Homo sapiens: one gene and its partners. The protein of the gene in region 1 purifies or fractionates together with the protein of each later gene. This does not show direct contact. Each region holds a gene or a part of one and is shown in the gene's direction. Other genes may lie near its edges. The genes, in order: WDTC1, CCT6B, STXBP4 and MIPEP.

Region 1 (7,458 bases):
CCTAACTCAGTCTCCCAAGTAGCTAGGACTACAGGCACGCATCACCACAACTGGCTAATTTTTTTTTTTTTTTTTTTTGTATTTTTAATAGAGACAGTGTTTGGCCATGTTGGCCAGGCTGGTCTCAAACTCCTGACCTTAAGTGATCCTCCCACCTCAGCCTTCCAAAGTGATAGAATTACAGCCATGAGCCACACCCGGCCCAGTCACCATGCCTGCCCTAATTTTTTTTTTTTTTTTTTGACGAAGTCTTGCTCTGTTGCCCAGGTTGGAGTGCAGTGGCGTGATCTTGGCTCACCACAACCTCTGCCTCCAGGGTTCAAGCTATTCTCCTGCCTCACCCTCCCAAATAGCTGGGATTACAGGCACGCACCACCATGCCCAGCTGACTTTTGTATTTTTAGTAGAGACGGGGTTTCACTATGTTGGCCAGTCTGGTCTCGAACTCCTGATCTCGTGATCTGCCTGCTTCGGCCTCCCAGAGTGCTGGGATTACAGGCGTGAGCCACCGCGCCTGGCCAATGTTTATATTTTTTGTAGAGACAGGATTTTGCCGTATTGCCCACGCTGGTCTGGAACCAAAACGTTGGGATTACAGGCGTGAGCCTCCATGCCTGGCCGAGTCTCTGTTTCTTCTATGTAAAATGGGAGTAAGAATCATACCTAACTCACAACGTGGTTGGGAGAAGCAAATGAGTTAGTGTGTGTTAATGTATATGGGTGTGTGTGCGTGCGTGTACACATATGTATGTATAGATTTATGTATAGGTCTCTGCCTATATGGAGAGAGAGGAAGTGAGAAAGAGAGAAACTCAAGCAAGTGTAAGAGTACGAGTGGTATCTATTAGAAAATAATAAATAGTAACTGCAGTTGTTAATAGTCTTCTTCCTGGTGGGGCGAGGTGGCTCATGCCTCTAATCCCAGCACTTTGAGAGGCCAAGGCAGGTGGATCACCTGCGATCAGGAGTTTGAGACCAGCCTGACCAATTATGGTGAAACCCTATCTCTACTAAAAATACAAAAATTAGCCGGGCGTCGTGGCATGTGCCTGTAGTCCCAGCTACTCGGGAGGCTGAGACAGGAGAATCGCTTGAACCCAGGAGGCAGAGGTTGCAGTGAGCCGAGATTGCACCACTATACTCCAGCCTGGGCGACAGAGCAAGACTCCGTCTCAAAAGAAATAGTCTTCTTCCTGTCATCAGTCTCTACCAACGAAAGTTCATTCTGACAACAAATATTTACTGAGTTTCTGCTATGTGCCATAGACTGTGCTAGGAGTCACAGAAACATCACCCACTCTTCTCTATCAGTATATCTAAGATCCTCTGTGACCTTGCCAGCATTAAACAAGACTTTAAAATGGGGGTTCTCTGGCCGGGCGCGGTGGCTCATGTCTGTAGTGACAGCACTTTGGGAGGCAGAGGCGGGTGGATCACGAGGTCAGGAGATCGAGACTATCCTGGCTAGTACGGTGAAACCCCGTCTGTACTAAATGAAATGACAAACTGGTGGCGGGCGCCTGTAGTCCCAGCTACTCGGGAGGCTTAGGCAGGAGAATGGTGTGAACCCGGGAGGCAGAGCTTGCAGTGAGCAGAGATTGCCCCACTGCACTCCAGCCTGGGCGACAGAGCAAGACTCTGTCTCAAAAAAAGAAGAAAAAAGTGGGGGGGGGGGTGGTCTCTGCCAAAAACACAGGATGCTAAAATGATTTAAAAATGAGGGTTCTGGATTTGAATAGTGTAGGCTTTAATCCCAACTGTACCACTTCCTAGCTATGTGATTGTGGGAGTCTGTCTTTCTTTCTTTTCTTTTTTCTTTTTTTGAGATGGAGTCTCTCTCTGTTGCTCAGGCTGGAGTGCAGTGGCACGACCTCGGCTCACTGCAACCTTCGCCTCTAGGATTCAAGTGATTCTCCTGCCTCAGCCTCCTGAGTAGCTGGGATTACAGGCACGCGCCACCACGCCCGGCTAATTTTTGTATTTTTAGTAGAGACGGGGTTTCACCATGCTGGCCAGGCTGGTCTTGAACTCCCGACCTCAGGCGATCCACCCGCCCTTGGCCTCCCAAAGTGCTGGTATTACAGGCGTGAGCCACCGCGCCCGGCCGGGAGTGTTTCTTTTTCTTTTACTTTTTTTTTTTTTTTTTTTTTTGAGACGGAGTCTCGCTCTGTCGCCCAGGCTGGAGTGCAGTGACGCGATCTCGGCTCACTGCAAGCTGCGCCTCCCGGGTTCACGCCATTCTCCTGCCTCAGCCTCCCGAGTAGCTGGTTCTACAGGCGCCCACCATCACGCCCGGCTAATTTTTTTGTATTTTTAGTAGAGATGGGGTTTCACCGTGTTAGCCAGGTGGTCTCTATCTCCTGATCTCGTGATCCGCCCGCCTCTGCCTCCCAAAGTGCTGGGATTACAGGCGTGAGCCACCGCGCCCAGCCCGGGAGTATTTCTTAATTCACTAGTAGCACTTATCTCCCATGGTAAGTATTCAATAAATGTTAGATATTATTCAGTTTAATTAACCCAATGACCCTAACCAAGGTTGCAGCCTGAACCTGGGGAGCTGCAGATAGATGATCTCAAAGCTTTCTTCTAGTCCCAAAGTCTATGATTTTTTATATTCAGTAGAACAGCTGTGGTGGAGAGTTCAGGGGGAATGACCCACAATATTTTTAGGAGAAAGGCATAAAAGGCTTTGTGAGCGGTTTCACAAGGATAGGTTCTTACTCCTCTAAATGGGGAGAAATCTCCCTTGCGGAGAAATCACCAGCAATTAGAATACTACCTTTGTCTCTGGGAGTATTCAGGTATTCACAGACAAATTCGTACTCATGATGTGAGCAGAATTGGAAAAAAAAAAAAAAAAAAAAAAAAAAAACAAGCGACACATGGAGTGATAAACACTATAAATGCCAAATACATATATTCAGTCCTTACTGAGAGCGGGTGCTGTCTGGTTTTCACAGGAAAGACAGGCAGTGTTAAAAGGCTCAGACTCTGGTGTCAGGCAGATCTGGGTCTAATTCCCAATTTGCCAACTTATCAGGACCCCGGGGGCAAGTTGCTTTTAGCCTTTCTGCTTCAGCTTTCCTTTTCTGCAAAACACAGACAGCAATAGTACCTAGCTAAGAGACTGTACCCAATCCAGTGCGAATAAAAGTGAATTATTGTTAGTATCTGACAAATGGCACCCTATGGGTGACAAGTTTCCTTTGTCAGAAGGTGACACGTCTTCCCTTTCTGACTTGAGGTTTCACGGGTGGGGCCTGGTCTCTGCCTTAAGAAGATAGGCTTAGTGCCACCCTTGTCACCTTGGGAACTTCCTTAATAAAGAGGAGGGTCTCTCCTCCATCAGACCCGGGACTCCACAAGGCTGGAACTGCGTCTCTTCCTCAGAGGTGGGAGCAGCAGTGACTCCGCTAGGGTCAGATGGACCTAGTCGCTCCCATCACCCCGAGGGCACCCAGAGTGTGTGTGGCTGACTCCTCTCCAGGCTACTCAGCGTAGGCCCGATTCTCTTTCATTCTCTTCCTTAAGGCCCAGGAGACGTCAGTGAGGACTGTGCCACTTCAGCAGCCCCCCAGAGCAGGAAGGAGTGGGCTGAGGAGCCCCCCGGGGCCCTAGCCTGAGAGGTCCCAGAATTCGGGGGCTGAGAGGAAGTCTTAGGAGCTCTTAAGGGGCTGTGAGGGGACCTGGGGTTCAGTGGGCGAGCGTGTGGGCGGGTGTCCCAGAAGCGGTGTGAGGAGCGTTTTACCCGGTGGTGGGGTGGGAGGTGCGTCCGGGTAACTAATGGCAACCGGGCGGGGTGAGCCCGCTCTGCAGGAACTCCTCGACGGCGAAAAACTACGACTCCCAGGGTGCCCCAGGGCTTAGCCCAGCTTTCCCGCCCGCCCACTGGCTGCCGGTCCCGCAAGCGGCGAAGCCCATTGGCCACGGCGGTGCGGGGCTCCCCCACTAGCAGGTTAGTGGGCGCCGCCGGCAGCAGACGTTGACCGGGCGCGGGGGGGTAAGTGGGGGGGCCCGGCTAGCCATTCTGGAAGCGGCCGGGCGCAGTCTTCGTAGCGTACCCGCCGGCTGCGAGGCGCAGGGCGGAGGCGGAGACTGCGTGGCGCAGGCGCGTTGCTGGGCTTCTCCTGGGTCCCCAGACAGCTGGAGGAGATAAACAGAGGAGGAGGAGGGAGGGGAGTGCGTGTGTGAGAGCGCGCGAGGGAGTGTGAGTGTGTGTGAGCGCGGGTGTGAGGCGGTGCGCAGGGGCGGGCGGAGGCGCTGTCCGGCCCCGGCCAGGCGCCGGGCGGGGAGCATGGGAAGGGGCTAGAACTGCTCGAGCCCCCCAGCCCCCTCCCCGGGATCCGCGCCCCCCTTCCCGGGAGAGGGGCCGCCCCCCCCGGACGGACATGGGCTCCTGAAGTTGCGCCGCTGCCGGTCGGGGGAAGAGACCTGACAGGTACGGGTCACCGCCGCCCCCTGCCCTCCGCGGGCGCCGAGGCGGGGACCGGCTCCCGCAGCCCCGGTGAACGGGCCGCCCGCTCTGGGCCGGCTCCAGCCCTGCCGGCCTGGGGGCCTGAGCCTACCCGCCTCGGGGCCCCGGGTGTCCCGAGAGGGGCCAGGCCTCGCCGGGGCGGAGGGCAGAGTGGTCCGGGGGCGGGGTGGGGGCGGAGGGTTTGGTCGGGACGCGGGGGGAGGCTGTGGGAGTCCGGGGAGGCTCTGCGGAGGGAGAGGTGGAAGTCATTCCATCATGGGACTTTTTTGCGGAGTTTTTGTTTGACATCTGATCTGGCGCCGGAGTCAGGAAGAAGGGGCAGGTGTAAGTGCTGGGAGGGCAACGCCGACCTGACCTGCCCTCTTAGCTTCTCGCTCTCTCTCTTTCTGTTTTTCTCTCTCTCTTTCTGTGTGTGTGTGTGTGTGTGTGTGTGTGTGTGTGTGTGTGTGTCCACAGCAGATGCCTTCAGTGGCCCATCCTGGCACCAAACAACTCTGCCAAGGTGTTTCCACCAGGCGACTGTAGCACCCCGTATACAAAGGGCCTCTGCTTGGGAACGGGCTATTCAGTACCCACTTCAAAGGGTAAATAGGAAGTGAGGAGATAGAAGAGAGACTGCGAACCAGCAGGATCCACTTCTTGGACTGAAAGCCGCAGTGGGACGCCCCTTTGCCAGATTGGTTGACTTTGCTTGGTGGCTTGGGCTCTCTCTCCTCTGCGGGTGTACTCCCAGGGTTTCTAGAGGAGAGGTACAGGGGCCTGTAACTAATGTCTTAATAGCCGAATTTGACTGTTTTCCCCAGAGTTCTTTTCTTCTGTGACTTTCTTTAACCTCCTGAAGTACTGGTAGAGCAACGTTATAGTTTTTCTCTCAAGTTGGTGATTTTAGGAGCCTGGTAGGGTGGCTGAAGCTTCCCCATTCATTCCAAGGATGGGGTAGATGATCTGGGTAAAGTGGCAGTGAAGTCTTCCCTTTCTAACAAAGCCTGAAACCGTTTTGAGAAGAAACTATTTTGAGGGCAGCTTCTGACTCAAAGACGTTACGAAATCCCCACCTAGGACACCGGTATGCCCAGTGGTCCCTACTAAGCTTTTCTGTGTCTTTTAGAGTCGTTGAGTGGCCAGCTTCTGCTCACTGTACTGAAGGAACTACTTAATGCTATTTCTGTCTTGAGTTCTGGCTTATTCTTCCTTGTGATTCTTATATCTTTAGCGGGATTGAATTGAATTTTTGCTGTTGAGTGTAATAGCCAGATCCTCTGTAACAGACCAGGGAGTAACTAGTTGGGCTCCTTTGGGCCAAGTCTGAGACTTACTGAGGTTTCTTCATTGTAGGTTGTTGTATTTCGTTGGCAGGTGGGAAATGACCTTTTCCGTCATAGTTTGTGATCATGCTGCTTTAAGGCTGGAGTCCTGCTCTCCTTTCCTTTTTTGACCTATATGGGAGCACTTCTGTTCGAGTCTTATCTCAATTTGAAGGAACAGTGCTTTTGGATCAACTCTGCCGAATAATTGAGCAGTAGCCCATATTTCTGCCTGGGACACCTTCATTGAGGGTCACGAGGGAAAGAGAGAACACGTGTAAATATTATGATGATGATGTTAACAACTATTTACCAGTTTCATACAATTGACAGTTTTTTTTAGCCGGGAGGAGTTCAGTATTGACTCATTGGGCATCTTATGTAGGGTGTTTTTGCACACCTAGACTTTAGGATCTGGAAAGACAACTGAAAATCTTGAAGCCCACTGCCAAACATTTGTGGATCTTGGGCCAACTGCTAAGGAAGATCTAGACTATGACTTGGTCTTTAATTATTTTTATTTTTTTCTCCTTTATGTATGTATGTATTTATTTATTTATTTTTTGAGATGGAGTCTTGCTCTGTTGCCCAGGCTGAAGTGCAGTGGCGCGATCTCAGCTCACTGCAACCTCAGCCTCCTGGGTTCAAGCAATTCTCTGCTTCAGCCTCCCAAGTAGCTGGGATTGCAGGTGCCTGCCACCATGCCCAGCTAATTTTTGTATTTTTAGTAGAGATGGGGTTTCACCATCTTGGCCAGGCTGGTCTTGAACTCCTGACCTCGTGATCCACCGACCTCGGCCTCCCAGAGTGCTGGGATTACAGGTGTGAGCCACCGCACCTGGCCTCTCCTTTTATTTTTATTTTTTTGAGATGGGGTCTCACTCTGTTGCCTGGGCTGGTCTCAAACTCCTGAGCTCAAGGGATTCTCGTACCTCTGCCTTCCTAGTAGCTGGGACTACAGACACGGCCTCCGTGACCACTCTCTTCTCTCTTTTTAAAAATTAAGGAATGTTGCTGACATGTGCAGTTCTGAGTCTCAGAGAGGAAGTCAAACAGAACATGTAATCTGGTGATACTTGTGTTTTCTTTGGGTCACTGGTTTAGTTATCTATTCTGTTTCCTTTCTTCTTTCCACCTCACCTTTCCAGATGCTCCACTGTATCTTTAGGCTGCCATTGCAGATTGCTGGGCCCACAAAACCCTTAGGTTGTACTTTCTTAGCTGTCATCTCTTGAAAAGCCAAAGTTCTGGCAGTTGCTATTAGAAACCAGTTCCTGGCTGAGCGCGGTGGCTCACGCCTGTAATCCCAGCACTTTGGGAGGCTGAGGTGGGCAGATCACGAGGTCAGGAGATTGAGACCATCCTGGCTAACACGGTGAAACCCCATCTCTACTAAAAATACAAAAAAAATTAGCCGGGCATGGTGGCACGCGCCTGTAGTCCCAGCTACTCAGGAGGGATTTTCCTACTAAGGCAGGAAAATCGCTTGAACCCAGGAGGTGGAGGTTGCGGTGAGCTGTGATCGTGCCATTGCACTCCAGCCTGGGCAACAAAAGTGAAACTCCATCTCAAAAAAAAAAAAAAGAAAAGAAAAGAAAAAAAAGAAAGAAGCCAGTTCCTTGGTGTAGTTAATTTACTTTGAGAGGTATTTGCCAGTTGGGATATGTCCTAAAAAGTGAC
Region 2 (7,575 bases), on another chromosome or scaffold:
TAAAAGTGTTACAGTCTTATGTTTTACATTTAGGTCTGTGATTCATTTTAAGTTAAATTTTGTATATGGTGCAAGTATGGATACAAGTTCATTTTTTTCATATAAAGGTATCAGATTGTTTTAGTCTTATTTGCTGAAAAGACTTTACTTTCACCACCGAATTGCCTTTTCTCGTGTATAAAAAATCAGTTTTTCATATTTGTGTGGTTCTATTTCTGTGCTCTTTTTTCTGTCCTACTGATGCATTTGTCTATTTTAATGTTAATATCATACTGTCCTGACGACTGTAGCTTTATAATAAATCTTGAAATCAGTATTGTTAACTCTCATTTTTTTTTTAAGTTATTTTGGTCATTCTAAGTCTTTGGCATTTCCATATGACTTCCATATGAATTTTAGAATCAGCTTGTCAATTTCTACCAAAAAGACTGCTGCTGGGATTTTGATCAGAACTTTTTTTTTTAGAAAGGATCTTACTCTGTCACTCAGGCTGGAGTGCAGTGGTGTGATCATGGCTCACTGCAGACTTGACCTGCTGAGCTCAAGTGACTCTCCCACCTTAGCTTCCCAAGTAGCTGGAACCACAAGCATGCACTACCATGCCTGGTTAATTTTTTTTTATTTTCTGTAGAGACAACGTCTCATTATGTTGTTACCCAGGCTGGTCTCAAACTCCTGGGCTCAAGCGATCCTCCCGCCTTGGCCTCCCAAAGTGCGTGGATTACAGGTGTGAGCCATTACACCCTGCTTGATTGGAATTTTATTAAATCTGTAGACCAATTTGGAGATAGTTGATATTTTAATAATGAGCCTTCTAACTCATGAATATCATCTTATCTATTTGAGTCTTCTTGAATTTATCTCAGCAATATTTCATAGATCTTAGTATATGAGCCTCACATACTTTTTTCCATATTTATCTCTATATATTTTATGTATTTTGTTGCTATTGTATATGCTATTTTTAAAATTTCCATTTCTGATTGTTAGTTGCTAATATATAGAAATATATTTTATTTTTGTACATTGATCTTGAATTCTGCAACCTTGCTAAATCACAATTAGCTTTCTTATAGGCTTCATTGAATTATCTATATAAGTGATTACATTGTCTGCTATACAGTTATACTTTTTGCTCTCCAATATGGATATTTTAAAATTTTCTCCCTTATTTCATGGGCCAGAACCTCCAGTATAATGTTGACTAGAAATAATGAGAATGGACATCCTTTCCTCATCGCTGATCTTAGGGGGAAAGCATTCAATCTTTCTCCATTATGTATGATGTTAGCTATAGGTTTTTATCAGGTTGAGGAAGTTCTCCCTTCTGCACCTAGTTTGCTGACAGTTTTTAATCAAGAATAAATGCCAGGCTGGTCGTGGTGGCTCACACCTGTAATTCCAGCATTTTGGGAGGCTGACGTGCATGGGTCACCTGAGGTCAGGAGTTCAAGACCAGCTTGGCCAACATGGTGAAACTGTCTCTACTAAAAATAAAAAAATTAGCTGGGCATGGTGGCAGGCACCTGCAATCTCAGCTTCTCGTGAGGCTGAGGCAGGAGAATTGCTTGAACCTGGGAGGTGGAGGTTGTAGTGAGCCGAGATCGTGCCACTGGACTTTAGCCTGGGCGACAAGAGTAAAACTTCTTGTTGTTGTTGTTTTTTGTCAAAACACACACACACACACACACACACGAGAATAAATGCCAAATGCTTCTTGTGCATCTATTGAGATGATCATATGATTTTTTTTTTTTTCTTTTGAGATGAAGTCTCACTTCGTTGCCCAGGCTGGAGTGCCATGGCGCAATCCTGGCTCACTGCAACCTCTGCTTCCCAGGTTCAAGCGAATCTCCTACATCAGCCTCCTGAGTAGGTGGGATTACAGGCATGCACCACCATGCCAGGGTAATTTTGGTATGTTTCAGTAGAGATGGAGTTTCACCATGTTGGCCTGGCTGGTCTCGAACTCCTGACCTCAGGTGATCTGCTTGCCTTGGCCTCCCAAAGGTCTGGGATTACAAGCCTGAGCCACTGCACCCAGCCCTCGTTTAGTTTTCTCGTACAGTAAATTACATTGATTGATTCAAATGTCAAACCTTACATTCTTGGGATAAACCATACTTAGTTATAATGCATTTTACTTTTTAAAAAATTAATGGATTACATTTTTTTAAAATTATTTTTTAAATTGTGATAAATATACATAACATAAAATTTACAGTTTAACAATTTTTAAGTGTACAGTTCAGTGTTAGTAAGTGCATTCACAATGTTGTCTAACCATTATCACCACCCATCTCCAGAACTTTTTTTCCTTGCAAAACTGAAACTCTGAACCCATTAAACAATATCTCTCCATTCCCTACCCACCTCCCCAGCCCTGGGTAACCACCATTCTACTTTCTGTCTCTATGAGTTTACTCTATGTATCTCATATAATTGGAATCATACAGTTTTTGTCCTTTGTCTGGCTTATTTCACTTTGCATAGTGTCATCAAGGCTCATTCATGTTGTAGCATGTGCCAGAATTTCCTTCCTTTTTACCATTGAATAATATTCTATTGTATGTATATACCACATTTTATTTGTCTATTATTGGAAACGTGTTGCATTTACCTTTTGGCTATTGTGAATAATGGTACTATGTGTATTCTCCTTTTTATGTATTATTTGATTTAATTGGCTAAAATTTTGTTAAGAATTTTTACATATGTATTCATAAGGGGTATTGGTCTGTGTATATTTTTTCTTGTAATGCTTTTATCTTTTTTGGTGTTAGAACAATGCTGTACTCATAGAGTGAATTGGAAAGTTTTTCTTCTTGTTCAAATTTCTGAAAGTGTAAAGTTGTTGTGGAGAATTGGTATTATTTGTATTATTTCTTTCTTAAATGTTGGTAGACTGTCAATAAAGCCATCTGAGCCTGGAGTTTTCTTTGTGGGAAAGCTTTTAATGACACATTCAATTTTTTTAATAGACGTAGGGCTATAAAGGTTTTGTTTTTTTTGAGTGAGCTTTAGTGGTTTGTAGTCTTTCAAGAATTTGTCCACTTCATCTAAGTTAGGATCATCAACTACTATCTATGAGCTAAATCTGATTTGCTGCCTGTTTTGGTAAATAAAGTTTTGTTGGAATGTGGCCATACTCATTTGTCTATATATTGTCTGTGGCTATTTTTGTGTTACAGTGGCAGAGTTGAATAGTTGGAAAAGAAATGGTATGGCCTGAAAAATATTAACTGGCCTTTTGCAGAAAGTTTACTAACTTCTGATCAACAGTTTCAACTTTATTGTCATAAAGTCGATCATAATATTCATTTGTTATTCTTTTTAATATCTGTAGAATCTGTAGTGATATAAATTTTCTCATTTCTGACATTTGTCATTTGACTAATTTCCACTTTCATCCTAATTATTTCCTTTCTTTTGCTTATATTAGGTTTCATTTGTGCTTCCTTTTTTAGTTTTTTTTTTTTTTTTTTCTTTTTGAAACAGAGTCTCGATCTGTCACCTAGGCTGGAGTGCAGTGGCATGGTCACGGCTCACTGCAGCCTTGACTTCCCAGGCTCAGGCAGTCCTCCCACCTTAGCCTCCTAAGTAGCTGGGATTACAGGTGTGTGCCACCAAACCTGGCTAATTGTTGTGTTTTTTGTAGAGATGGGGTCTCACTGTGTTGCCCAGGCTGGTCTTGAATTTCCGGGCTCAAGTGATCTACCTGCCTTGGCCTCCCAAAGTGCTGGGATTATAGGAGCGAGCCACCAGACCCTGTCCTTTTCTAGTTTCTTAAGGTGGAAGCTGGGGTCATTAGTTTGAGAACTTTCTTCGTTCCTAATATAGGTGTTTCGTGATATAAATTTCTCTTTAAGTACTGCTTTAGGGATGCTAAAATTTTGATATGTTGTGTTTTCACAGAGAATGGGATCAGGGAAGTTTTCAAAGGTTCTAGTAATCTCTTTCTTAAGCTGGGTGGTAGGTACATGGATACATTTGTTTATTTGTGCATTTATTCTTTATATCATACATATAAATATTCTTTTGAGTATATTCTGTATTTAACAAGGAACTTTTAAAAAATGTGAATGGGAGGTAATGATGTAATCATCTGGTGGGTAAACAACTCTTTGAGCGGTTATGTTGTGAAGTGAAGCAGTGAAAGGGGGTAGTAATTTTAAAATGATGTGAGATAAAAGGGGAGATTGTTTTCGTATTGTTTTGTTTTAAAGCAAGTTTTCTGATTTAAATAAGAGTCATAAACTTTATGAAACCATACAAGTAGCAGATATAAAAGTGATATCCTGATGTGAAATTTGATGTGTTTAACCAAAACTCTTGCTTTAGAATAATACCACTTAAATTTTTTCTTAGATAGCAGTTTGAGTTCTGCTGCAGTACAAAAAACAAATACTTCATTGAGTTCCAAGAATTCCCTATCAAAAACTAGACAAATGATCTTGGTCTAAAGAATTTTCATGTCAGATATTGTAATCAGTTACCTGTCAATATAAATTATAAATACCTCTTAAAAGTAGTCATAAGGCCGGGTGTGGTGGCTCACACCTGTAATCCCAGCATTTTGGGAGACGGAGGTGGGTGGATCACTTGAAGTCAGGAGTTCAAGACCAGCCTGGCCAACGTGGTGAAACCCCATCTCTATTAAAAATACAAAAATTAGCTGGGTGTGGTGGTGCACGCCTGTAATTCCAGCTACTTAGAAGGCTGAGGTAGGAGGATCACTTGAACCTGGAAGGCAGAGGTTGGAGTGAGTCAAGATCATGCCACTACAGTACAGCCTGGGTGATGGAGTAAAACTCCATCTCAGAAAAAAAAAGTAGTTATAAAAGAGTAAGATGAAGGTAAAAATAAATTATTCTTGTTTACCAGAGGGTAAGGAGCAAAATAAGCTGTTTGCAGCCAGTTATCTGTACTATGCCTATTTATTTAATGACATATAACTTCAGGATGTTTCATAAGATAACTGAGTAATTACTAAGCTGTGCAATTTATTTGGTTTCTGTAGATAATAGAACATACTTAAATAGTGAATTGCTTTTCTGTCTCTCTCTCTCTTTTGGTCTTTATGGCATGTCTTGCCAATCATATTTTTTCTCTCCAATAGGTTGTATGGTTCCTGGAGCTGGTGCAATTGAAGTGGCAATGGCTGAAGCTCTTGTTACATATAAGAACAGTATAAAAGGAAGAGCTCGTCTTGGAGTCCAAGCTTTTGCTGATGCCTTACTCATTATTCCCAAGGTACAACTACCCTTTCGGCCAAATAACAACTGCTTAGACATAAAGGTGTTTAATTACAAATTGCCCATATTATCTGATAGTTAATGGAGTAGACAGGTATTTATGTGCATTTCCTTACACAGTTTTCTCTTAGATATTTTACAACTAAAGCAGGGAAACTTTTGCGATAACAGCCCAGGATCCTTGCACGATCTCATGAAATAGCCAACTTACCCCCTTGCTTCTTTCTCTGAGTTCCAAAAATTAAAGCAGCTCCAAAAATTTCCTTCAGAAATGACTCATGATTAACTAATCATAATGAAAAAGTTTAGAATTTAAAATTTAGTTAGATTTTGTGGTACATCTTTGTTTTGTTAGTGGTATCCAAATGTAATCAATTTAAATTGTGGAGAGGGAGGGCTTGAGGCTCTTTAGCACTCCTAGATACAACCTTACATTTGTCATCATCATTATAATTCCTAGAAAAAGAGAAAACAGAATTTTTCCATGTGGCAACCTAAGGACAGAAAGCGACCATTCCTTTGTCTTTGCCTTAATTGGTTTCAAACCACCTTAGAAATATAGTAAAACTACTTCAAAGATGCTATTACCATGAATTAAAACATTATTAACAATGTTAGCAAAATCTCTTTGCTAATTTTTATTAAAATTTTTCATAATTTGTGAAATCTTTGTGAATTAGATTTGCTATTTTTTCTTTCCCCAGAGCAGCAAAGTCAGTATGATCCTGCTGCTGACAGAAATTGGTAACCCCAGTACACATTACATTGGTGGTACCTTTTTCCTCATCAGCTGGTGATTTGGGGCCACTTGGAAGTGAGCCTGGTTTGGAGTGCAGGTATCTCCAACCCTGTTACCACAGGTCGTGACTCTCCTCATGAAGATGAGGGGCACAAAGGTGCTGCAAATATTCTGGTTTCCTTAGCAAGTGCCTATGAAGAACTGGAGGGCATGTGGCTAGCGGCACTAGAGGAAACAAGAATATCATTCTACTTCCTTCCATACTAAAAACAAAACAAAACAAAACAAACCTTTTGCAAGGAGGGAAATTAATGTAGTAGGGTAAAAATGGGGGAACTCTGATGTCCTCAGAATTTAGTGTGACGTGCATAGGGGAAATGTTTAAGTAAATATAAAAACTACTAGATAGATGAAATAATAATTTGATTTAGATTAAAAGTGGAATTCTTCAAAAGGAGATGATTGCCATGTTATGGATGTGTTTTTACAAGAGTAAAGAGTATTTTTATATTTGATATATGTGAAGGTATTATGCATATATATATAATATATATTATTATTTTTATTCCTAAAGGTTCTTGCTCAGAATGCTGGTTATGACCCACAGGAAACATTAGTAAAAGTTCAGGCTGAGCATGTCGAGTCAAAACAACTTGTGGGCGTAGATTTGAATACAGGTAAGAAAGTGAAGGAAAATTAGCTGCTTAATAAAGAGGTTATTCTTTAGTTACCCAGATCTTATGGTAAAGGAGTAGAGGTTTGGGTAACTTTAATATTTAAATTTTGGATGCCTTTAGTTTATTTTTGAGCTTCTTAAAAAATGTTCATTCATTTAAGAAATAGTTATTGAGTGCTTGTTTTCCTCTTGGGCTTCACACAGAACAAAACAGACAAAAATATCTGCCCCTGGGAGCTTATGTTGTAGTGGGAGAAGGTAGGCAGTAAATAATAACTTTAATAAATAAACTCCTTCAGCATTTTAGAAAAAGTAATGAATTATATGGAAAAAAGAGTGCTATAATAATGATCATGAATGCTAGTACAGGAGGGTGGAGAGAGAATGACAGCTTAAAGGGTTGGTCAGGGTAGGCATCATCTAGATGTCTGTTGAAAAAAAGTGGAAGGAAGTGAGGAAATTAGCCATGTAGGCAACTGGGGTTAAGTGTTCTAGGGAAAGAGAACAGCCAGTGGAAAAGCCAGTGTCTGATGTTTCTGAGGAAGGAGGTGAGAGAGGTGACAGAAGGTCAGATCATGCAGGGGCATTTGGACCAGTCTCAGGACTTTGGCTTTTACTTTAGAGGAGCAGGGAGCAATTTTGAGCAGAGGTGTGACATGGCCTAATTAATTAATTTATGAGACAGTCTCGTTCTATCACCCATGCTGTGGAGTGCAGTGGCACGATCTTGGCTCACTGCAACCTCTGCCTCCCAGGTTCAAGCAATTCTCCTGCCTCAGCCTCCGGAGTAGCTGGGAATATAGGTGTCTGCTGCCACGCCCGGCTAATTTTTGTATTTTTAGTAGAGACAGGGTTTCACCATGTTGGCCAGGCATGTGGCCTAATTATGTTTAAGAGAATCACTC
Region 3 (7,552 bases), on another chromosome or scaffold:
ATTTATACTTTAACTTTTAAGTTACATGATAGTAAAAGTCAATTTGGAACAATGGAAAATGCCATGTTTTATTAGAATCATAGTGTTAAAATTAGTCCTCTGACAGTTTAAGTGATGAAAGAAAGGAATTTACATTAATAAAGTAATCTTTTAATGACTGGTTAGTCACTTACATATATTTCTGTTTGCTGAGGTCTAAAGTTCCACTGGAGACTTGCATGCACATCTGCATTAAAGCTAATTTTAATGATTCGATCTTTAACAGGCACCATGTTTTCAATCTTGTCTGAGGCATGACCTGCAACTGCTGATCCTCCAAGTCCAGTAGTCTAGAAAAAGATACCAAATATGTTAAACAATACTTTTAGGTGTTGATGATCTATTTATTTGATAAAAGTTTAAAAACAATGTAGTATTTATAATCCATTTGGAGCCAAGTTTACATATGGTAACTGACCATTGCTGTAACTGTGTCAAGAATCTGACTACTTTTGGGATGTCATGAGCCTGTATTTGTTAAAGTCATTCCTATTTTTCAGCAATCCCTTGGTTACCTGGCATGGTCAAAAATGAGTCTGGGAAAAGCAGGTTCACTAGATAAGTCAACTATTATCACTGATAGTCGAACTCACAATTTCCAGCTTAGCCATTTATAAAAAACACATTTCCCTTTATTGCTAGTATTTCATTAATAGAAATAAAATTTACCCATGACCTTGTAATTCCACTGAAAATACTTAACTCAATTTTTCCATATTCCTGTCTGGTCCTTTTCCATATCACAGCTTTTATAATCCAAATAAGATTGTAGCTTCACTTTTATTAACATTCTGCTTTTCTAAGGTATCACAGGTATTTTCCCACGTTGGTTAATGGTTTTGAATCTTTTCTGTACTTCTCTGTATAGTAGAGCTTTTATATAAATCACTAATCAGAGCACCTAATCCCTATGGCCACAGAAATAATCATAGGGCATCAAGAGTATTTATGTCTGACATTTCTTTTATTCATGACAGTTATTTCCTTGACATCACTTTTAAAAAAAGCCCTTACCCAGCACTTTGGGAAGCCACGGGGGGCGGATCATGAGGTCAGGAGATGGAGACCATCCTGGCTAACACAGTGAACCCCCGTCTCTATTAAAAATAGAAAAAAATTAGCCGGGTGTGGTGACACGCGCCTGTAGTCCCAGGTCTACTCGGGAGGCTGAGGCAGAAGAATTGCTTGAACCCGGGAGGCGGAGGTTGCAGTGAGCCGAGATCACACCACTGCACTCCAGCCTGGGCAACAGAGCAAGACTCCATCTCAAAAGAAAAAAAAAAACGCCCTTACTTCCAAGGTCATCTTTCTTCTGATACTTGAGGTTGCCAGAATTCTGATTTCTGGATAATTTGCCTGTTACTATGCTAGGAAGAAAAAACAAAAAACAAATTTGAGGCTAGGGGAAGACTCCCAGCAAGATACAGTGTTTTAGCATTCTCTGTTTGTTACGCAAGTCAACTAACTTCATTTGACTGCCATGCAACATTACTGAATTACATTATATCCCTAAAAGATGCATCAGAGGGCAAGCCTTTATCCTTGTTTATCCTTCTGCCTGAGTGCTGTGTTTAAGATGTAACTTCTTTTACTAAAAAATTTAAGTCACTTAAATAAAAATACTTTTAAGTGTCCTCCCTCAATAAAGATTCCAATATAGTCTTTGAATATGGGTTCAAATTTCTAAGTTCAATGCCTAAAGTAAAATAGACAAAAAGACTAGAAAACAGCACTAAAAAGATGTCCTGGTCTCTATTCTAGTTGTGCTACTAGCTCTAAGAACCTGATAGATTACAAATTACATTTGGCTTCCTGATCTATGATTGCATGTGGGCACATTTCACACGCAATATTATCAGTTATTTCAGTTTGGGGCAGGGTTTCTCAATCTTAGAACTATGGACATTTTGGGCTGAATAATTTTTTGTTGTTTGGGGGTGAGGCAGTGCTTTGTTGGTTATTTAGTAGCATTCCTAGCCTCTACCTATTAGATGCCAGTAGCACCCTATACCCCCACCTCCATGTTGTGACAACCAAAAATGTCTTCACACATCGCTAAATGTTCCCTGAGGGGCAAAAATCTCCTGGCGGTCTGAGAAGGATCTAGATTTGCTGATTTGGATTCAGTTCTGCTTATGATTTAACCAACTGGTAGTTTTAGAATTCATGCTTGGGCTTGGTCTCTGATGAAAAGTAATTCACATTCTATACTCATCCTCAAAATCAACTATTGCACATTCCCACATAAATGCTGGCATTAGGAGACTATGCCAGAAAAGAAAAGTCCTTTTGTCTTCTGCTTCATCATCTAAAAGAAAGGTAAATTGATTTCCACGGGCATGGTGGCTCACGCCTGTAATCCCAGCACTTTGGGAGGCCAAGGCAGGAGGGTCACTTGAGCCCAGGAGTTGAGACCAGCCTGAGCAACATAGGGAGACCTCGTCTCTACAAATTTAAATAAATAAACGTGCGCGCGCGCGCACACACACACACACACACACACACACACACGGAAAGAGTGAACTCCAGCTAAGAATACCAGTCATGGTGTTAAAAAAACAATTCCCAAACTTTCCTGCACGCTGGAATCACCTAAAACATACTTGACAATTACTGATGCCTGGTTCCCACTGTGGCCTTGTGATAAAATGGGTAATGTGTGTGGATTTTTAGAAGCTGTCCAGGTGATTCCCAATGTTGCTGTACAATGAATTTTGGGAGCCACTATCTTAAACACTTACTGAATCACTTGTGGCATGATTTTTAAACCGAAATTCCTGTCCCTACCCTAGACTTCCTAACCAGAATCTCTGGGGTAGGGGATCCCTGGAACGTGTATTTAACGTTAAGCTCCATAGGTGATCCTAATGGCCAGCCAAAGCTGCAAATTATTAGCTAAGAACAAAGGAGAAATCTCTAAAATACGTGAAACTTGTCTTTGCCTGTGGTTCTCAAAACTTGCCCTCAAAATCAACTACAGGACTTAACTAAAATATAGAGTGCTGGTCCCACTCCCCTTCTTCTCCCCGCCCCACCCCCCCACCCCGTGTTTCTGACTCAGTCCTGGAGTCGGGCCCTAGAATTTGCACTTTTAACAGGTTCCCGGGTGATGCTGATGCTGCCGGTCCTGGGCGCCACACTCCCAGAACCGTTGCAATGTACTTAACAGTTTCCAGGTTAAGTACATTACAGTTATATATTAACAGGGGTGGGGCGAGAGAGCCTCAAAGGCCTAATTCATGCCTCTTTGTACGGAGGAACTGCTAATCCCAGTTTAAGCCCAAGAAACACGAGTAGTCCAATTTCCAGAGTTACCCTTGGCACATAAACCACATGTGGTTTGCAGAGTGAATGTATGAATAATACATTTTAAAAGCGTGTGTGCGCAGGAGGGTAAGGCAGACTGCTAGATACCCGGTTAGAGGCTGCGGACCTTTTTTTTTTTTTTTGGCGAGGTGCAGTTCATAGATCAGGGGTTTCACTCTGCAGCATGGTATAAGCACAATCACTAAGAACTGGATGCTACTTGCAGTTTTGTCACCAATTTCTTTGGTGACTTTGGGTGTTAAGTGACTGTTTTGAACCTCTCTCCTCTTAGGTAGATAATATCGGAAACCTCTTCCACCTACGACCCGCAGAGCGAGGGCTTGTCCCGGGATTTGTCTTGCACCCCCACCTCTCGCGTCTGCGCCACCCTGCGGGCGGCGCCGGCCCCTACCTGGCAATAGAGCCGATAAAGGGGTACGGCAGCGTAGGACGCCCCCAGCATGCCCACGGCGACAGCGGCCACGTAAGTGAGGGTCGTCTTGTTCTGCCGCCGCCGCTCCTCCTCCTGCGCGCGTGTGAAAGGGTTCGAGCTCTTAGGCCGCCGCGGCGGCTGCAATGCTGGATGCCGGGCTCGAAGGCTGCAGCGCTTCCATGTCCCAAGCCACCTCAGTCCTCTCTCGGCACCTCCTGTCCCACTCCACTCTGGCCTAAGAAACGGCTCTACCCTCTCTGCAGCCCTGGTTGGAGACCCAGGGTGGATCCAGCGCCAGCCACAGAAAGGAACGCACCTCCATCCAGGACGCCAGAGCCCTCCCATAACCCTCTGAACTAACACCCACCCGCCTCTCAGGGACGAGAGGTCAAATCTCGCGAGGCGTGCTCCGTCTCGCGAGATCTGGGTTGAGCCTGCCGCTGCCTTGGCTACCAGGCTCCTCAGGTGGCAGCGCTTGCAGTCGGGCTACGGAGGCCGGGTTGCCAGATTACGGGTAAGTTTGCGTTTTGCTTTGTGACTGTTACTCCCACTTCGCTTCTCGCCAGAACGTCTCTTAACATTTAGGAAAATGCGTTTCGCCCGTCCGCGTGCAAGCTTGCCATCACTTGGGGTTGCGCCTGTGATCTTTATTTAAACTCCACCAGCCTTTGTCTCGACCCGGCAGCCCCGGCGACGCTCTCCCGCGGTCTTTTCTCCTGGGGTCCCTTGGCCGCTGGCTCCTGTGCTCACTGCCCTGGACTTAGTTCAAGTATCACCTCTCTCAGGAAGCCTTGCTGTGTTAACCGCAGCCCTCATGGGCACCCACGACACCTGCATTTTCTCAGCCCGTGGGCAGTCGGCTTCCCCTGCTCTGATGCCCCTTACAACTTGCCCAGTGGAAAGCACCACAGCTGGAGCAGGAGGGAGGCTGTCACGCTGAAGTTTGTTCTGGAGAGAGTGACCAGGATAGGAGGGCCATTTAAGGAGAGACTGAAAGAAACGAACCCCGTGGGAGGATGTAATAGCTTTCTTCAGTTGTCCCACAGGACGAACTCGAGGGGGGCAGACAGCATAGCGGATTTTACTGTGTTAGAAGGAAGCATCTTTCTAGAAACTATAAAATAGCAGTTAAGAGCTCAGGTTCTGAGGTTAGGGGGTTCTGGATTTTTACCCGGGTCCTCACCATGGCCCTGTGCCCTTAGGTCAGTTACTTGTCCTCTAAGACCTGGTGTCCTTACTTGTAAAATGGAAATCAGAACAGTAAATGAATAATATTCATATAACGTCTTTCATGATGACTGAGGCATAGTAAGAATGTAGTTAAAAGTTAGGCTGTATTTCTACTTGCTACGTGGCCATTTCTAATGGCCAGAGCAGGTATAATTATCCCCACTATGTGGATGAGGAACTTGGAGGCCTGAGAAATTTTAACTAGTCATTCGACATTTTATTTATTTATTGCCCTCTCAACTGTGGGCCTGACACCAATCGACCTGCTGGCACTATAGCACAGAACAAGTCGGGAGATCACTTCAGTGATGGAGTGTCCTTTCTGCTGAGGGACTCAGAAAATAATCAAGTAACAGTTACCGAAATAAGGGAATTTCAGATAACAATCAGTGCAGTGAAGACAATGTAATAACATAGTATGATTGACAGTCATGAGAAGCGGTAGTAAAGTAAGGACGTTTTGAAGAGGTGACATTTGAGTTTAGATCTGAACGATGATAAGGAGCTACCTACTCAATAACAATTCCAGGCCAAGCAAAGGCCCAGGGGAAGGAAAGAGATAGAATGATTGAAGAACAGAAAGAAGGCCACTGTGTTCCCAACATAGCAGAGTGGAAAGTGGTAGGAAATGGGGTCAGAACAGGTAACAAAGGCCTGGTAATACCAGCCTTTTAAGCCATGTCCAAGGGTTTGGATTTTATTCTAAAAGTAATAGGAAGCTATTGGAATGTTTGACACATACAAGTGATGTGATCTGACTCACATTTTTGAAAAGATATTGATTACTTTGTGGAGAATGGATTAAAGGTAGGGGGAGGAATGGAAGTAGAACAATTAGGAAGCAATTGCAGTAGTCCACATGAGTGATGATGGTCACCTTGAGTGAGTAATTGATTAACTTGTGGTCACAGGGCCAGAAAATTGCAGAACCAATAAAATATAAATACCTTCTGACTTCTTTCTATACTCTGGCATACTGTCTCAAAAATTTCAGGTCTCCATGATTCTACAAATTTATTCATATTGTGTGATGACAGTGTTTGAAAATCTTTTTCATCTGCATGCACCTTGGTTCTTGTACCAGATTCTCAGCTCTTCTAGGATGAGATTTCTCAAAGTTTAATTTTCTTACAGCATAGACTGAAATCCTTGATACCAACAGTACATTTCCACTCACCATTCTGTTTCTCCAGGCACCCCTTCTTTGTAGCTCCAGGTAGCAGTATAAATATATGTCAGTATACAGTCTTTGTCTTGGACTCCAGTATTTCATTTTTTGTATAATAATTGCAAAATGAAACTCTTATGTACAGTGATATTGATAGCAATGAAGTGGTGTTGGTCTTTGTAGCTTTCTACTTTAATAAAAGAAAATATGCATTGTATCTGATCTTAGTATGATAATGTGAAATGACAGTTCATGTTTATGAAATACTTCTGAATGACAACTAAATATTTTGGTTTTTTACTTATATTTTGAATGAAATGTGTAGAACATAATTTAGTTCAATGTCCAATTAACAAACATATTAAACAATTTAAAATATTTCTGCAACATAATAGTACTCAAATTTCTTGTATACCCTTCACCAAGATTAGAGAATGATAAAGATTCTTCAGTCTTTATCTGCATACTTACTTGTTTATTTCCTATTACAAGAACACTTTCTCCTTCCAAACCACAGAGCAGGCATCAAAATCAGTAAGTTAATATTTATCCAGTATTACCATATGTAGTCAGCTTGGACTACCAATAGCAAAATACCACAGACTGGTTGCTTAAACAACAGAAATACTTGTTTCTCAAAGTGCTGAAGGCTGGAAAGTCAAAGATCAATGTATCAACTGATTCACTTCCTGGTGAGGGGTCTCCCTGGCTTGTGACATCTACCATCTTGCTGTGGCCTTACATAGATTGGAGTAAATGAGCTCTTATGTCTCTTATAAGGACACCAATCCCATGAGATCAGGTTCCCACCCTTATGACCTCATTCAACCATAATTACTTCCTAATCCAAATACAGCTACATTGAGGGGTTAGGGCTTCAACATATGGATTTTGGGGGATATATATTAAATTCTTTACATCATGTTATTCATGGACTCTACATAAATTACCCCATTTGTCCCAATCATTTCCATTTTAGATCTAGGATTTAATCCAGGATTACTCGTTGATTTTAGTTGTCATGCCTCTTCAGTCTTCTTCAATCTGGAATAGTTGCCAGTCTTTTCTTGTCTTTTTCTTTCCTTTTTTATTTTTATTTTTATTTTTATTTTTGAGAGACAAGATCTTGCTGGGTTGCTCAGGCTGGTTTCAAACTCCTGGCCTTAGGTGGTCTTGGTCTCCCATAGTGCTGGGATTACAGGCATGAGCCACCGCACCCAGCCTTATCTTTCATGACTTTGACATTTTTGAGGAATACAGGCTGGTTACGTGATTAAATGTGCCTCAATATAGGTCTGTCTGATGTTTCCTCATGTTTGTGACCCCTTGACAGGAATATCTTAGAGGAGATGCTGTGCTTCAATCAGTGAGTCCTC
Region 4 (7,575 bases), on another chromosome or scaffold:
GCCTGCCTTTCTTTCCAGTTTTGGGGGCAGCAGTTTGCTCTGTGGCCTTGATTCTCTGCTGAATCTAAGAAGATTCTTGATTTTCAGCTTGTTCAGCTTCCTGCTTGTTAGGATGGAGTGGTGACTTTCAACCTCCTCATGTGCAGGAGTGGAAACCTCAAGCCTGGACCACTTCCTTTTATAGTTTATTTTCTCCCCTCTTTCCATGCACTCCTTTCTCTCAGTTCTTCAGTACCTCTGAACTGTTCTGTGTCTTCCTTCCCACCCCTCCCTCTGGTAGTTCAGGGGTCTGCCCTTTACCTTCTCTGCCCGCATCGCCCTTCCCTAATGGCCCTGTCTCCCTCTATGGCTCTAATATCTGTACAGTGAAGTCTCCTTGTTCTCCTTAGCTTTGGGTCCTGAGTGTCTGGTATCTCATGGGCACTTCACAGTCGGTTCCTCCAAAATGGAGTTTATTTTCTGTGAGCCCTCCATCCTCCTCCCATCATTGCACCTCACCCTCCTCTCTTCTCCCACAAACACACCCAGATTCCCCTCTTCCTTTTTTGTGTTCATTGTGCCGGCTGATTCAGTGACTCTACCATCCACTTATTTGTCCAAGCCAGAAACCTGAGTGTTATTCTAGATTGTTCTGTCTTTCTCATCACCCTCCAAATCCAATCACTCACACAGTCCTGAGACGTTTGCATCTCAAAGGAAAAACACATTCATCCCTGACCCCACTGCCCTCTGTCAGAGTTCACCCTCTGAAGCCTGGAAGTCTGTCCTCCTGTCAGCCCTCCCTGCCTCCTGCATTCCACCCTCCATGCTGTCCACTGTGCAGCATTCCAGAAAACATCAGATGCTCCCCTATGGCCTACAGAAGCTGTCTCCCAAATGGCATCTGTAAGCAATTCATTGAGAGTGTAGTCATAAAATATTAGAAATTCTATGTATATTTATTTTTCTTTATCTCAACTTATAAAAATGTCTGCTTTTCTTTTTGCAATGTGATAAAACAATACCACATGCATATACTTTATGAGTGTACTAATAGAAGGTTGAATACTCAAAAGTTATTTTAGTGTGCATTGGTGAGGAAGCTTAGAGGCCATGGCCTATGGTGCATGGTCCCAGTTCCTCAGCTTAGTGGACCAGGCCCTCTGTTTTCTGGCCCCTGCCTGCCTTTTCCAGACTCCGCTCCCATTCTTTCTACATTTATCCCTGCATTGGTAACTGCTTCATCTTTAACCACATCCTTTCTAGAAGTTACCAGGCTATTTTATGCCATCATACTTTAGTTATACTGTCGCTTCTGCCTAGAATTCCTATTATGATTCCCATTTTCCATTCCTCATCCCAGCCCTGCCTTGCAAAGTCTGATTCCTTTTTTTTTTTTTTTTTTTTTTGAGATGGAGAGTCTTGCTCTGTCGCCCAGGCTGGAGTGCAGTGGCACAATCGTGGCTCACTCAACCTCCGCCTCCTGGGTTCAAGCAATTCTCTGCCTCAGCCTCCCGAGTAGCTGGGATTACAGGCACCCGCCACCACACCCGGCTAATTTTTGTACTTTTAGTAGAGACGGGGTTTCACCATGTTGGCCAAACTGGTCTTGAACTCCTGACCTCATGATCCACCCACCTCAGCCTCCCAAAGTGCTGGGATTATAGGCGTGAGCCACAGCACCCGGCCGATTCTTTCTTGATTCCTATCCGAGAAGCTTTCCCTGGTGCTACTCTGCACTCCACAAGTAAAGTCATCATGCTCTCCTTTGCCCTCCCATTTTGCAGTGCTCATTCGTTCATGCTTCAGCACTGTCTGTTGAGCGCCAGCCGTGTGCCCACTGCACCAGGCCCAGGACACAGTGTAGTTGGTTCACTTCTCTGCCTCTTTCAGTGCCAGCTGCTTAGACACAAAGGCTCTTCATTCTTCTCTTCCAGCACCCCGCAGGTTTGCTGACAGCATGCTTGAGTGAACGAACCAGGGAGCGAGGGCACTGGATCATGAACGTCTCTTTCAACACTAGGATTCTGTTTAAAGAAAAATCAGTCAGAAATTAAGGTGTAAATTTGTGGATGTCCATAGCCAAAGTCTCATTTGTTGTGCAATTTATGTTCACTTACTAAACTCATTCATTTATTAGTAACTATGTTTTTATATTTTTATATATAAATTTGTTGTGGGGACTCATTTTATGGAACGAAGTGTTGTGCAGTTCTAGAATCACAAATAAAGCCAATTGAAAAAAAAATGTGTATTTTGGTAATCCTAAAAAGTAGACATATAATGAGAACCTACAATATTCTAGAGCCATTATTTTTGGCTATGGCTATATATTTTGGCTTGACTTAATGATTCAAATGTAAACATTCAAATCACGTATTTTGGATTTGCTTTGGTTTATATTGGAATATATAGAACAGAAAAAGTTATTTTTGGGTGAAGAATAATTCACCTTACTAGTTACGTTGTCTTTAATTTAAGATATCTAACTATAAAACAGATAAGATCTGATTATTTATATTGCAGGCATTTTTTTCATAAATGAATATTTTACTGGATGAGAACTTTAAATTCACTTAATGTGCCTCAGGATTTTTATTCATTTAATATTTATGTATATAGGTCACAAGTTTCTAGAATATAATTCATAAGGTAAGAGTTACCATTATAACTGAAACTGATCATATTTTGCATGTAAGTATGTATAAGGAATGTATACAGTGAGCAGTTGAGACTGCTTAATTGGGTTAGTGAAAGAGTAAATAACAGGGAAGGGACAAAGGTTAGGGAATGATATATCTACCTTAATTACTGACTTATAACTAACACTAGTAATAATCAGACTGTCATTCTGAAGAAAACTGTCTGAAAACCCCTCAAATGATATAAATACACTTTTATGTTTTGAATCCTTCTTTAGCTCCAGTGATCTTAAGTATTAAATGAAAAGTTAATTGAATTTACCTTCAGAAATTGAAATAAACAAAGATGCTGTTGAACCTCTCTTCCTTCTCTTAGGTATAATATTGAGCCCAGCCTATATTGCCCGTTTTTCTCTCTTGGAGCATGCATGGAAGGCCTGAATATTTTGCTTAACAGACTGTTGGGGATTTCATTATATGCAGAGCAGCCTGCAAAAGGAGAGGTGTGGAGCGAAGATGTCCGAAAACTGGTGAGCTCCTCCTGCTCAGCCTGCAGTTGCAGGCATTTACCTTTCGGTTGGGCAGTTGAGTCAACAGCAGTTTCAGGTTTACATCAACTTTGCCCTGACTGAGTGTGTCCCCTGCCTTATTTCTGCTTCACAAAAAAAATCCAAATTGCACTTCTGATTTAAGACACTGTATAAAGGATCCAAACATAAAACAGCAGAGTTTTCTAAAAAAGTTTTTTGGAACTTGATAGAAGGTTGAATATATATGCACCTTCATATATCCACAAATTCTATTTATAGGAAAATTGTCCTTTACTTTGTATATACCTTCATAGCTGTGTGTCCGTTTTGGTTAATTCCCAAATCCATTGGATAAGTGACCTTTTTTCTCTCCAACCCCCATCCCATGTTGTAGGGGCTTATATTTGCATCAGATATTAATTTACGTCCGTGTTCTGATTTATTTAACTTCTTTGATAATAACTTCAAACCTAGCAATCATCTTTCTCCTGTGAAGGCCCACTTTATATGAGGCATGAATATTTTAAATTTTTCCTCATAGGATTTGAGGCTTTGTTGACCTGTGTGTGTCACTAAGGCTTTGTATTGTTTTGTTGTTTGATTTTTGCTAGCATGCTTACCACACTGCTTTCTTCACTATATTTTAAGAAATGTAAACAGTCTCATTGTCTCTCGGCCACGTCTTGTGAGTGGAGAGTAGGTGTGGTGGTGGGATTGAAAGGAGAGTCAGGGTGGGAGGACGTTCATCACTGCATTGATTTACTTCACTATCTGTATTACAAACTTCCAAAAAAGATAGAGATTGATAAAATGCTGAGATATAATAAAAAGAAAAATTTATAAGAGGAGACTGAGAGGACAAAATGCGGGTGATGAAGGGTTTCCCCAGAACTGCAGAATGTGCACTCCACCGGGGTCCAGCACTGTTGTCAGTTGCATTCACTTCTGTATCCTCAGTGTCTTGAAGAGTTCCTGGCACCAAGTAGGTGCTTAACAGATGTTTGATGAACAATAAATATATACTTGCAGGTAGTTTTAAAGCACAAAATCGGGGTTCTCTTTGATGGAATCATTAAATTCTGAAAGAACAAAGAAGGCAAGATGGAGAGTAGTGATTGAGTCTCTCCTATAAGCTATGTCTCTTGGAGAGGGGATAGATAGTAATATTGCTGATTTTTAACTCAAGCTGGGAGCTGCATTGTGGTGTTTTCAAATTCAAGGGTTATAATTTGCTTGGGCGTATATCACGACATTCCAGGATTTGAAGGAAAAATAATTTGCTCCTAAAATTGTCCAGCCAGCACTTCTTCCCAGCTCTTGTGGGTGGTTAGTAAAGGTATTGTAGAGGATAGGCAGTCAGGACAAAAGGCCCTCATGAGGAGGATTTCCTGTCCTGGACACAGAATTCCAAAACCAAAATCATTCAAGAGATGGAGCAGAAGAGGATGCGGGGAAAAGAGAATCTATCTCGAGATAATGTGGGGTGTAGAATGTAATTAAAATGTCTATATGTGTGGCTATGGATGTTTAATATACAGATTCTTGTGTTAGGGATTTTAGAGAATCAGATGGCCTCATTTACCACCAAATTTAAATTTTTTTTTCTAGGCTGTTGTTCATGAATCTGAAGGATTGTTGGGGTACATTTACTGTGATTTTTTTCAGCGAGCAGACAAACCACATCAGGTGATCCTTTCTTTATAAACTGGTCTCTCTAGAACCGATCGGCATTTCATTTGTATTGATGTGAACTTTGTATCATTTTTTAAATTCCATGACATTTAAAAGTTACTAATGATGGTTACCAAATATATACATTTGAAATTAAGATAGAATTTTAAAATTAAAAAGTTTATGGAAATAATTACATCAGTCTATATTTGTCACTTTTATCTGGGTCATGGTATTAATTATAGTAACAATGACAACTGACATTTTATGAATCCTTATTTGTGCCAAACAGTGCACTGAGCCCGTTATACACATCAGCCTTTTAATGTTCGCCTCACCCTTTTGACTAGTTACTCACATTATGAGGAAACTGAAGCCATAGAGGTTAAGCTACTTGGCCAGAAGTGCTAGGACTTGAAGGCATACATCCTGAGCAGATCCCCAACTTTTAACTCTTTTCCATACTCGACAATGAACCTATTCTAAAACTGCGGAAGATACTCCATGTGGAAACCTTACCAACCACCAAGTAGCTCCTTATGTGGAAGACTTGAGGCAGCTCATCTCCTTTTCTTTAGCATTGGCCGACTTTGACAGCCAGTCAGCTTTAGCAGTTTCATGTAGCTTGATGGGAAATGTCAAGAGTTTAGGTTATAAGTTATAACAGAAATAATGTACCTTATGTTTGAATAGTGATTCACAATTTCCAAAGCACAGATTTTAACAGATGTGAGCTTATGAATTCTGGACAGCCACTGTGGGATTTGACAAGGAAGCATTTTAGAGATGAGGCTTGCAGAAGCAAATTATTTTCCGAGATGATTTGTCTAGTAGGTGTGAAAGGTAGGAACAGGGTGCAGGTCACCAGACTCTGAGGCCAGTGTTCTTCCTCTTTGCTTAAATGGGTGGGTGGTGGAGACTCAACTTTAGTGATTAGGAGCCCTGGCTCCTAATAGTCAGCCTGGGTTCAGATCCAAGGTGTGGCAGTTCTAGCTAGGTGTCCTTGGACATGTTATTTAATAATCCTAAGACTAGTTTTAGTTTTATCATCTGAAAAGTGAGATACCTGCTACATAGGGTTGTTGTGGAGAATAAGTGATACAGTGTATGTGAGTCTCAGTGTAGTGCCTGTTTCAGAGTAAGTTATTCTGGCTCCGGATCCCTTGCTTTACACTAGTTTAGATCCCATCTCGTTCAAGTGATAAAAGTCAAGAGAGGCTGGGCGCGGTGGCTCATGCCTGTAATCCCAGAACTTTAGGAGGCTGAGGCTGGCAGATCACTTCAGTCCAGGAGTTCAAGACCAGCCCTGGCAACATAGTAAGACTCCATCTGTACAAAAAAAAATCTAAAAATTTAGCTGGGTGTGGTGGAGCACACCTGTAGTCCCAGCCAATCAGTAGGCCAAAGCAGGAGGATGGCTTGAGCCCAGGAGGTCCAGGCTGCAGTGAACTGCGATCACAACACTGCACTCCAGCCTGGGCAACAGAGCAAGACCCTATCTTAAAAAAAGAAAAAAAAATAGCCAAGAGACATGGAAAGTACCTACTAGTTCATTATCTGACACATAGTAGGGACTCAGAATAAATGTTAGTGTCCCTTCGTAAGTTCTTTGCTGACTTTGTTTCCAGCTTCTGGCACAGCATCATTTCAATGCATGTTTTGGGACCAAAGTAATGAGTTAATCCATAGAAACTGAATGTGTTCTTGATGTTTTAAAAAATTAAAATTTTAGCAGAATAAAAAATGTCAAGAAAAGGTGTATATATGTAAATAGATAGAATAAGAATATAATTAAGTTAAAGTTTGCACTCACACATTTTTGGTGAAATTTTATATTCATTAAGACTGTTTTACTCTTCACATTACCAAATACTTTCTTTTCCTTTTATGTTTTCTGATTCTTAAAGGATTGCCATTTCACTATCCGTGGAGGCAGACTAAAGGAAGATGGAGACTATCAACTCCCAGTTGTAGTTCTTATGCTGAATCTTCCCCGTTCCTCAAGGAGTTCTCCAACTTTGCTAACTCCTAGCATGATGGAAAATCTTTTCCATGAAATGGGACATGCCATGCATTCAATGCTAGGACGTACTCGTTACCAACACGTCACTGGTGAGCCATGAGGAGGGCTTTTATTTACTACAGTCCTTTACAAACATACATTTTCTTTGAATTGGGAAAGGGGCTTTTTATTTGGAAAATGTGATCATTTTACCGTGTCCTGTGGTCTTTATCTCAGATTGCCTCATCCTGCCCTCCCCATGGTTGTGCAGCCTGATCTTCCATGCTTTTTTCCATGCTTGCTAACAGCTTTCACCAGGGAATAATCTCAGTTGTCTTTCAAGTTTGTCCCTTTTTACATTTTACAGTGTTTTATATTGAATTTAAGTTTGTGGCTATGTGTGTGTGAATAAAAACGTATCTCCTTAATACCTCCCACAGAGTTAATAAGTAAGTGAATGAATGGTCTCTCTTTATATTCAAAATCAGAGAAGAAAATAAAGCATGCTTAAAAAGTATGATGAAGTCCTTTTAATTTTTCATATACTTTCCCCTGTATAAAATCATAGTTCTGCTTTGTAGTTTTTATGCTGCTATGTGGCTATATTTTGTGATATTACAGACTTCCTTCTTCATTGTCTTATCCTTAAGTCTTAAGCTCCCTATCACATATGGTCAGCATTAGACCACTAGTGAATTGTTGGCATCCAGCATTTGTTAACTAACTTTACACACAGTATTTTGGACAAGGA

What was found.
Region 2: the proteins of WDTC1 (region 1) and CCT6B purify together in Homo sapiens (co-immunoprecipitation; 3 studies listed by BioGRID and IntAct, with this or other methods). This does not show direct contact.
Region 3: the proteins of WDTC1 (region 1) and STXBP4 purify together in Homo sapiens (co-immunoprecipitation; 3 studies listed by BioGRID and IntAct, with this or other methods). This does not show direct contact.
Region 4: the proteins of WDTC1 (region 1) and MIPEP purify together in Homo sapiens (co-immunoprecipitation; 3 studies listed by BioGRID and IntAct, with this or other methods). This does not show direct contact.

Annotation. Positions count from the first base shown.
Region 1 is NC_000001.11:27,230,514-27,237,971, forward strand, and holds the start of WDTC1 (WD and tetratricopeptide repeats protein 1), read left to right. Parts: upstream 1-4,118; 5' UTR 4,119-4,438; intron 4,439-4,683; exon of another isoform or gene 4,684-4,798; intron 4,799-7,458. UniProt on the Homo sapiens protein: May function as a substrate receptor for CUL4-DDB1 E3 ubiquitin-protein ligase complex.
Region 2 is NC_000017.11:34,930,045-34,937,619, reverse strand, and holds part of CCT6B (T-complex protein 1 subunit zeta-2), read left to right. Parts: intron 1-5,119; coding exon 5,120-5,253; intron 5,254-6,568; coding exon 6,569-6,671; intron 6,672-7,575. UniProt on the Homo sapiens protein: Component of the chaperonin-containing T-complex (TRiC), a molecular chaperone complex that assists the folding of proteins upon ATP hydrolysis.
Region 3 is NC_000017.11:54,964,524-54,972,075, forward strand, and holds the start of STXBP4 (syntaxin-binding protein 4), read left to right. Parts: upstream 1-4,241; 5' UTR 4,242-4,292; intron 4,293-7,552. Other genes in the region: COX11 (cytochrome c oxidase assembly protein COX11, mitochondrial), read right to left, coding at 174-329, 3,758-4,123. UniProt on the Homo sapiens protein: Plays a role in the translocation of transport vesicles from the cytoplasm to the plasma membrane. Inhibits the translocation of SLC2A4 from intracellular vesicles to the plasma membrane by STX4A binding and preventing the interaction between STX4A and VAMP2.
Region 4 is NC_000013.11:23,836,911-23,844,485, reverse strand, and holds part of MIPEP (mitochondrial intermediate peptidase), read left to right. Parts: intron 1-2,997; coding exon 2,998-3,151; intron 3,152-4,759; coding exon 4,760-4,837; intron 4,838-6,729; coding exon 6,730-6,934; intron 6,935-7,575. UniProt on the Homo sapiens protein: Cleaves proteins, imported into the mitochondrion, to their mature size.